2 linked regions of the Homo sapiens genome follow. The protein of the gene in region 2 interacts with the protein of the main gene of each other region in a biochemical or structural test. Each region holds a gene or a part of one and is shown on either strand. Other genes may lie near its edges.

The links. The genes of interacting proteins can lie anywhere in the genome.
Region 1: the proteins of XRCC1 (region 2) and TOPORS interact in far-western blotting, tested with the Homo sapiens proteins (one study listed by BioGRID).

Annotation. Positions count from the first base shown.
Region 1 is NC_000009.12:32,542,587-32,547,050, forward strand, and holds part of TOPORS (E3 ubiquitin-protein ligase Topors), read right to left. Parts: intron 1,741-4,464; coding exon 1-1,740. UniProt on the Homo sapiens protein: Functions as an E3 ubiquitin-protein ligase and as an E3 SUMO1-protein ligase. Probable tumor suppressor involved in cell growth, cell proliferation and apoptosis that regulates p53/TP53 stability through ubiquitin-dependent degradation.
Region 2 is NC_000019.10:43,554,242-43,559,671, forward strand, and holds part of XRCC1 (DNA repair protein XRCC1), read right to left. Parts: intron 564-5,430; coding exon 405-563; intron 1-404. UniProt on the Homo sapiens protein: Scaffold protein involved in DNA single-strand break repair by mediating the assembly of DNA break repair protein complexes. Negatively regulates ADP-ribosyltransferase activity of PARP1 during base-excision repair in order to prevent excessive PARP1 activity.

The DNA.
Region 1 (4,464 bases), on a different chromosome or scaffold from region 2:
TGATCTCTTTTTGTCTCTTCTCCCTCTAGGTCTGCTACTTTCCCTGCTTCTGGATCGTTTACTTTTCATTCTTTTCTTCCCATGATGCTTTCTATGATTCTTCTGATCATGCCCACTTCTACTCTGAGAACGTGAATCTGAACTTCTTGATCTTCCCCTCTTTCTGTGTCTATGGTTATATGGAGAATATACTCTGTCTCCTCTTACAGATGAGTTCAGGTTTCTGGGAGATGACAATGATGTAGATCGTTTCTCTTCCTTCTTTGATTTGATTCTTGTACTAGAATCACAATGACCTTTATTTATTTGTTCATCCTTTCCAAGGACAGAGTGTGGAGATGAGCATCTACTAACATCGCTATCACCAGAACTGTAAGATTGCTCCTGTTCTTGTGTCTTCACTGTCTCCATTTTCTCATAAGAACCTAAGTCCTCAGAATCAGAGGACAGTTCAACAAGTTCTGGGGTCCTCTCAGCTAGTGGTTTAACAAACCCAACAATGACACAATTATCTGAAGAATCATCACTGTCATTATTTAGGTCGTCATTGGTTTGTACTCCTTGTATCTGAGACGTGGCTCCTCCTGTGACAAGTTCTTCATCTGAACTGTCAGAAGTATTTAAAAGAGAAGACATAGTAACGTGTACCTGCTCTGAGCTTGAGTAAGATGGTCCTGGAGTTTCATCATCCCATGGTGCCTGACTAACAGTGGCTACATTAATATCCAGCTCTTGGGTCTCAGCCTCATCTGGAGATATTGTTATGACTGAAGAATCAGAATGGCTGCCTTCTTCGTATGAAGGAGCAGGGCAATCATAATTGGCATGCTGGTCAAAGGCTGCCATGTTAAAAGGAGATCGGGCAAAACTGATAAATTCATGTATAAAATGCTCAGTTCGATTAAGTAAAAATGGTCTTAAATCAGACACAAATGCCTGACTCTCCAAGTCATAGCGAGTAACATTACTCATGATAATATGCTGGACAATATTCACTAAAGATCCATGAGCTCCAAAAAGAACTGTAAGTTCACGTTTTAACCAGGGGACTAATCTGTGAAGGCAAGCTGGATTTCTACGGAAAAATTCAGCTGAAATATCCCTGTAGCGGCCACCATCTTCAATATTTCTAACTCGAGCACCAGCACGATAAAGAGTTCGTCTAAAATTAATAATATCTTGTTCTTGAATTTTCCGCAAAGATCTTTCATCTGCCGTAGTTGGCCTCCTTACTGCAATCTGTCTCATAAACTGAGGAATTTCAACATCTCTAGGTCTTGTTGAAATGCCTAACCCTTCAAACAGTACTCCACTATCCGGTGGAGTTGTTGTTCTTCTGTTCACAGGACCACTAGGTGAATACACAGAAGCATTTCGTTCCCTTGTCAGAGTTGTACGGTAGCGAAATCGTCGATCAGGGGTGACAAAAGAACCATTATACGAAGGCCTTAGGACATACTCCTTGAAGTCATCTTCTGCCCTCACAGAATGGAAAATAGAATCAAAGGGCTGTTTACATAGTGGGCATTCAGCTTTGTTTTTTGACCACTCCTGTACACAGCGAAAACAGAACTTATGTAAGCAGCGATCTAAGTAAGACACATTATCAAATCTATCCAAGCATATAGGACACTTAGAATCAGGAGATGCATCAGCTGGTACTGTCTGTTGCAATTTGCTAGTGCCAGCTTTAGGTGAAAAGTTGTCCATTTTAAATTCCTTAGCAGCTGATGCCATTATCTGTAAAAGGGAAAGAAATATATCAGTAACCTGATAATAGAGGAATGACTAAATAGTCTCAACAAAAATGCAAATAAAGACCTTGAAACTTATTTTGGTGAAAATACTTAAGTGACCCATTACTTTTGTTTTATTTTATAAAGGGGCACTGTAGCATAGTAATATAGTGCTTAAAGCATAAGCTCTGAAGTCAGATTTCCTAAGACTGAATCCTGGTTCCACACTACCAGCGTGACTATGTGCCAGTTAGTATCTCTGTGCTTTAATTTCATCTGCAGGTCAGTGATAACAGAATCTGCCTTACAGGGTTTGTGAAGATGTAAAAAGCCCTTAGAAAAGGCACCTGCTACATAGTAAAGCTCTCAAATATTATGTAACATTCTATTATTCTTTTTAAAAATAATTTGAGAAATATCTGACATATAAAAAAAAAAAGTACCAAATACCCATGTATCCACCACTTATGTTATGCCCCTTATCTTCCCCTCCTATCACTCTCTAGAAAACAAAAAACAAAAACACCACACTCCTCAGTTGATGTTATTTCTATGCATGGCTTTATACCTTTCATATACATATGCCACTAACAATACAGACTACTGATTTATCTGTGATATTTTGTATGTACTTTTCTAAAACAACTTTGGTGACATAACTTACATACCAGAAAGTTCACCTGTTTAAACCAATCCTATGATTTTTAGTGAAAGATTCTTTTTTCAACCTTAGAAAGCTAATTTTAAAAAGGGAGAGGAAACTTTTAGTGAAGATTAAATAATAAATGAAAAAGCAGCCAAGAGGCAGTGCCTGGCTCACAGTAGGTGCTGAGTAAATGTCAGCTGTTATTATTACTACACTATTATATTCAGTTAATCACTCATTCCATTCAGCATTCCTAATAAGCCTTCCTTTAGCTTTTTTCTTTAATCCAAAAGTCAGGCCACAGAATATCTTGAAATCATGTTTTTGGTCCCCTTCCCTATTATCCTTTCCCATAAGGATGACTAGAATATTAAAGATTAGTTTGTTTTATCAGTTTACATTGGCTCAAAACTTTGCTAGAGCTTGAAATCTAGTATGCGTTTTGACTTTATCTCATAAACTCCAAAGCTGCATTTTATACTAATCATTTTGAGTATATTGACTATTGGGGAGTCAGGCGCGGTGGCTCATGCCTGTAATCCAGCACTTTGGGAGGCCAAGGCAGGCAGATCACCTGAGGTCAGGAGTTCAAGACCAGCCTGGCCAACGTTGTGAAACCTTGTCTCTACTAAGAATACAAAAATTAGCCGGGCATGGTGGCAGGCACCTGTAATCCCAGCTACTTGGGAGGCTGAGACAGGAGAATCGCTTGAACCCAGGAGGCAGAGGTTGCAGTGAGCTGAGACTGCACCATTGCAGTGGGTGACAAGAGTGAAACTCTGTCTCAAAACAAATAAACAAACAACAACAAAAAACTACTAGGCCCTTGGTTTCCCAGGGCCTAATATTCATCTTCCTCCACCTCCTTTATCACAGGAGGTTCCATCACTAGTCAACTGGGGTCAAGTTAATCAAATAACAGAATTGTAATTTTCTAAATAGACTCATTGGCCTTAACAAACTATAAGAAAAACCAATAAACAAAACCCACAACAAAAACTCATGACTGAAATACAAGTATTCCACCATAGCTTTCATATTAAACCTGCTCACTTTAGGGCATCTTGGCTTTCTCAGAACCATAACTTAATAGAGAATCAATTAATGCTAAATAAGCGTTTCTTCAGGGGTCCAGGTATGTCTAGTCTTCTATTTACTGGACTGAAAATGCAAAAACATCATCACTGTCCTGGAAGGTCTGGAAAAGCAGGATTATAAATACATAATACTGCTTTTTTGTTCATAAACAGTCTAAAACCCTAATACTGCACAACCTTCTCAGCATTTCCCTCTACTTTTAACATTTTTTAATCTGCCTACTCAAGAAATTTAAAGAAACACACACATAAAAATAAAAACCTTTCAGTTCAGAGACTGTGTGTGTGGTAGAGGGAAGGAACAGAGAAAAGTTGGGAGGGAATCAAAGAGGTTATCAAAAGATCTGGACTGAAGACCAGGCTTCACCTAGAACTAGCTCTAGTTAATGTGAAGAAAACCACATTACTCTAGACTTTAGTTTTCTCCTCTATATAATGAAGGGATTACTGGACTTGGAAAAAAGACCCGTGAATTCCAAGTTAATACATTTTATCTTCACTTAGTTCTCTGAAATAGAATTTTAGTGTTTTCTGAACACTTCCAGTTCACATAAAAATTACAGCTGAAAATGAATTTATTAAAGGGAATTATTAGGTAGTAAACTTGAAGTTCAAATAAAATAAAATCTCAACAAAGTATGATTTTTTTAAAAAAATGAAACCTTACCCTTCCCTTCTCTAGTTTTATAAGCCTGTTAACCACTTTGACAGTAAAAGGTGAATGAATGACTGGTAATGTCCTCCATAACAGGTTAAAAAATAATAATAAATTAGAATTCATTCTTGTATTTCTACACAGGAATCATTAGCTGAAAAGAATAATCTTAGCCGGGCATGATGGGCACACCTGTAGTCCCAGCTACTCAGGAGGCTGAGGCAGGAGGATTAACTGAGCCTGGGAGGTCCAGGCTGCAGTGAGCCATAATTGCACCACCTCACTCCAGCCTGGGTGACAGAATGAGACCCTGTTTCAAAACAAACAAAC
Region 2 (5,430 bases):
GATCAGGCAATGGAGGCCCAGAGAGCGTAAGTCACTTGCCCAAGATCACACAGCTAAAAAGTGGTATAGCCAGGACGTGAACTCAGTAATCAGACGCCAGATCTCCTGATGTTAACTACTAGGCCCACTCTACTAGGCCACCTCTCTAACAAGTCAGTTCCCCTCCTCCGATTCCCCTCTGAGATGCTGCAGTTCACCCTTCCTAGATTCCTCCGGGAGATGAAACTTCTCATTACAGGAAAGATCCCAAACCCATTTCAGGGAACGCAGGGACCCAGCCTCCCCATAATCCCATGGGACACCAGCTGTCTACTCCTCCCAGCCCTATGGGACTCAATATTGGCCCTTATTTCCCTCCTTGCCCAGGACCAAGGACTCTGCACCCTGGCTCCCACCCTAGGTACCTTGCTGTAGGGCTGGCTGCAAACAATTTTGACCCGGTCCCAGCGCTTCTCGGCGGCTGCCCGGACCAGCTTGTCAGGCCCAAACATGCGAACGCGGTTGGGGTTTGAGCCACTGCGGCTCTCGGAAGGGGACATGAAAGATGAGGTGACCAGAAGGACCTGGGTGGGAGAAGCCACAGTGCATGAGAACCAGGGCAGGTTGGCTTAGATGAGAGCTTCTAGGGGCTGGGGAAGAGGGCACAGGGCCCACACAGGGGACTGGGAGTCACTAGAATGTAGCTTGGGCCTAGATGTCTCCAGACCCTTTGTTTCTAGGCCTTGAGTCAGTCCTGCCCTGACACAGGCCCCAGAGGGATCTCTTTATCCTCCAGATGTGAGCGACCCTTATCTAAATTCTCCCATGGAGTCTTCCATATCTGGCAATACAGCGGGCTACATGTCCTAAGGAACTTTCCCGGCAGAGAATATTCAGTAAACTGGCACAATATTCAAACACCTTTTGGAAATGCACAGGTGAGTCAGCGGAAAGGCAAGGGGAATTACTAGAGGCTGGAAATGAGAAAACAGAATCCAGAGAGTCAGGCGAGCTGCACTAAGTATTAAGTGATTGTTTCTCAGCTCAAACCTACCCTCTACAACTCATCTCTGTGATCTGGGCCCGCACTTGGCAAACCACCTTTCTGCTTCCCTAGCTGATCGTGACCAGGCTCTGCCAATAGGGGGGGCAAGAGAGAGAGTTTGCAAGGCTGCAGGAGGGAGGAAGGACCAGCTTCTCGTGCATTGCAGATCCTGTGAGCATCACCCCCAGTTAAGCTTCTGCTGCTGCAGTGGTTCCTGCCTGCAGCAGCAGATGAATCCAGTTTGCAGTGTCCCAATACCTCCAGAAACAGCCTCATTCAGCCCCTCTCAGCAGCCGGTGGGGGAGGAAGCCCTCCTCAAACGATCTGAATTTCAGCTCCTGGAGCCCCACCTCCCAGTTTCCAAACATCTACGTTTCAATAATTCCTGCTCCTTTCTTTTGTTCCCCCAACCCTGGGAGTGGTAGCTACTCCCTGCGGTTGCTTCTCCCTCATATCTTAGTCTTCTAGTAACACCTAGTTACTGGTTCTTTCTATCAAATTATCTGTTAAAATAACTGGTGTGGTTTTAATCTCCGGGCAAGGACCCTGACTGACCCGGCAGCACTCATGTTGGTAGTTTGTCATGGTGCTGATCCCAGATAGCAAATAACTTGATTTTATTTATTATTATTATTTTTTTAAGAGACAGGGTCTTTCTCTGTCACCCAGGCTGGAGCACAGTGGTGCGATCATAGCTCACTGCAGCCTCGACCTCTGGGTCTCAAGTGATTCTCCCACCTTGGCCTCTGAGTAGCTGGGTCTAGAGATGCACGACACCACACCTGGCTAATTTTTTATTTTTTGTAGAGGCATGGTCTTGCTATGTTGCCCAGGCTGGTCCTGAACTCCTGGCCTCAAATGATCCTCTCACCTCAGCCTCCCAAAGCTATAGAAGTACAAGTGTAAGCCACCACACCCAGCTAGAACTTGATCTTTAAGGGTTATGCACGTGGTGGTGAAAGAGAACAAGAGAGAAAACCTAGGCTCCAAGCAAGGGAGAGTGGCATCTCAGAGATCCTCACCACACTGCATAGAACTGAGGACTCCCCAAAGGCAACGCCCACACTAGTTACATGAAGGGGAAATAAGCCTGTGGAAAGAGTCCCTGGGAGGCCTGTCTGTCTTGGCCTTAGCTTGGGGGGACACCAAAGAAGAGGTGAAAATTCTTCTCGGGAGAACTCCTCACAAGTCTGTTCTCTCAAGGAATTGAGAGTAGCAATTCATGTTAGCAATCTGCATTGAAAAACCCAAGCTGAGGCCAGGCGCGGTGGCTCACGCCTGTAATCCCAGCACTTTGGGAGGCCAAGGCAGGCGGATCATTTGAGGTTAGGAGTTCAATACCAGCCTGGCCAACATGGTAAAACCCCATCTCTACTAAAAATACAAAATTTAAGCCAGGCATGGTGGCAGACGCCTGTTGTCCCAGCTACTCGGGAGGCTGAGGCACGAGAATTGCTTGAACCCAGGAGGCGGAGGTTGCAGTGAGCTGAGATCGCACCATTGCACTTAAGCCTGGTGGACAAGAGGCCAGGAGTTCAAGACCAGCCTAGCCAACATGGTGAAACACCGTCTTTACTAAAAATACAAAAATTAGCTGGACATGGTGGTAGGCACCTATAATCCCAGCTACTCGAGAGGCTGAGGCACAAGAATCGCTTGAACCCAGGAGTTGGAGGTGATGGTGAGCCGAGATTGTGCCACTGCATTCCAGCCTGGGTGACGGAGCAAGACTCTGCCAAAAAACAAAAAACGAAACAAAAAGACTGGGCACAGTGGCTCACACCTGTAATCCCAGCACTTTGGGAGGCCAAAGCAGGCAAATCACGAGGTCAGGAGATCGAGACCATCCTGGCCAACATAGTGAAACCCCATCTCTACTAAAAATACAAAAAAATTAGCTGGGCATGGTGGCGCGTGCCTGTAGTCCCAGCTACTCGGGAGGCTGAGGCAGGAGAATCACTTGAACCCAGGAGGCGGAGGTTGCAGTGAGCCAAGATTGCGCCACTGCACTCCAGCCTGGCAATAGAGCGAGACTCCGTCTCAAAAAAAAAAAAAAAAAAAAAAAAGATGAATGCAGCCACTTTTGGTTGGGTATATTTTGTTACTGACTTAGTCTCTTTTCTAACTGACATGCTGTGAAATTATAAAATTGGACAATAAAGCCTTTTGCTGAGAAAAACAGAACATAACTATAGCTCTCTTTGTGCACAGCTGATTATGCAAAGGAAACAAGAAAGACAATTATACAGAAGGGAAGTTTTCTTCCTGACCTTGACTATACTTGTTTATAAAAGGCCTGATTTGGAGCTGACAGGGAAGCTGCATTTATCATCTGGTGACTAACATGGGAAAACCCTGTCCTACTAAATACAAAAAAAATAGCCATGCATGGTGGCACAGGCCTGTAATCCGAGCTACTTGGGAGGCTAAGATGGAGAATCGTTTGTACCTGGGAGGCGGAGGTTGCAGTGAACCGAGATTGCACCACTGCACTCCAGCCTGGGCAACAGGAGCAAAATTCCATCTCAAAAAAAAAAAAAAAAAAAAAAAAAAAGGAAGGAGGGAGGGAAGGAGGGGAGGGAGAATGGAAGGAAGGAAGGCTCCTGTGACTTTGGGTTTGTGCCTTTGATGTTTTTGAAGAGTAGAGGTCAGTGATTTTTGTCAGATATCACTTATTGTACAAAGTATCTGATGTTTCCTTGTGATTAATTTAGGTTGCACACTTTGGCCAGAATACCACAGAAGTGATGTGTAATATACAGTTTATTTTGTATATTGACTTCTCATCTTGTGACCTTCACTTACTAAACCTTGTAGTTTGTCTAGATCTCTTGGGATTTTCTGCATAGACAATCATGCCATCTGTGAAAAAAGATAGTTTTCTTTTTTCTTTTTCTCACCTTGTCACACTGACTAGTGCAAAGTTGGGCATGGTGGTGCAAGCCTGTAGTCCCAGCTACTTGAGGGGCTGTGGAAGGAGGATCACTTGAACCCGGGAGGACAAGGCTGCAGTGAGCTGAGATCGTGCCACTGCACTCCAGCCTGGGTGACAAAGTGAGACCTCGTTTCAAAAAAAAAAGAGTAGGCCAGGTACACACAGCAGCTCACATGTGTAATCCTAGCACTTTGGGAGGCCGCAGCAGGTGGATCACCTGACCTCAGGAGTTCAAGACCAGCCTGGGCAACACAGTGAAACCCTATTTCTACAAAAAATATTTAAAAATTAGCCGGGCATGATGGCTCCCACTAGCTACTTGGGGGGCTGAGGCGGGAGGATCACTTGAGCCCAGGAGGCAGAGGTTGCAGTGAGCTGAGATCATGCCACTGTACTCCAACCTGAGCAACAGAGTGAGACCCCCATCTCAAATAAATAAATAAATAAATAAATAAATACATATATACATAAATAAATAATATGGTTAAAAAAAGAGACAGTTTGGTATTGGCATAAAGAAAACTATACATATCAATGGAACAGAGAAGAGAGTACAGAAATAAACCCATACATATGGTTAATTAATTCTCAACAAGGAGTCAAAATGATTCAATGAGAAAAGGCAAGTCTTTTTTTTTTTTTCAAAGTATTTTCAGCCAGGTGCAGTGGCTCAGGTCTGTAATCCCAATACTTTGGGAGGCCAAGGTGGGAGGATCACTTTAAGCTCAGGAGTTCAAGACCAGCCAGGCAATGTAGTGAAACCCCATTTCTACAAAAAATTTTTTAAAAAATTAGCCGGGTATGGCGGCTCACACCTATAGTCCCAGCTACTCAGGAGGCTGAGGCTGGAGAATCCCTTGAGTCTGGGAAGCGGAGGTTGCAGTGAGCCAAGATCATGCCACTGCACTCCAGCCTGGCCAACAGAGTGAGACTCTGTCTTAAAATAAATAAAATAAATAAATAAGCATTGTCAACAAACATATAAAAAAGATACAGAAAAGGGCCGGGTGCGGTGGCTCACACCTGTAATCCCAGCACTTTGGGAGGCTAAGGTGGGCAGATCACAAGGTCAGGAGATCGAGACCATCCTGGCTAACACAGTGAAACCCTGTCTCTACTAAAAATACAAAAAATTAGCCGGGCATGGTGGCACGTGCCTGTAGTCCCAGCTACTCCGGAGGCTGAGGCAGAATGGCGTGAACCCGGGAGGTGGAGCTTGCAGTGAGCCGAGATCGCGCCACTGCACTCCAGCCTGGGCAACAGAGTGAGACTCCATCTCAAAAAAAAAAAAAAAAAAAAAAAAGATACAGAAAAAATAAACCTTATCCCCTGCTTCACACAATACACAAAAATTCACTTGAGATGAAACAGAGATCTAAATGTAAAATCTAAAAATAGAAAGCTTCTAGAAGAAAACATAGGAGACAGGCAGAATAACAGCTCCTCAAAGATGTTTACATCCTAATCCCTG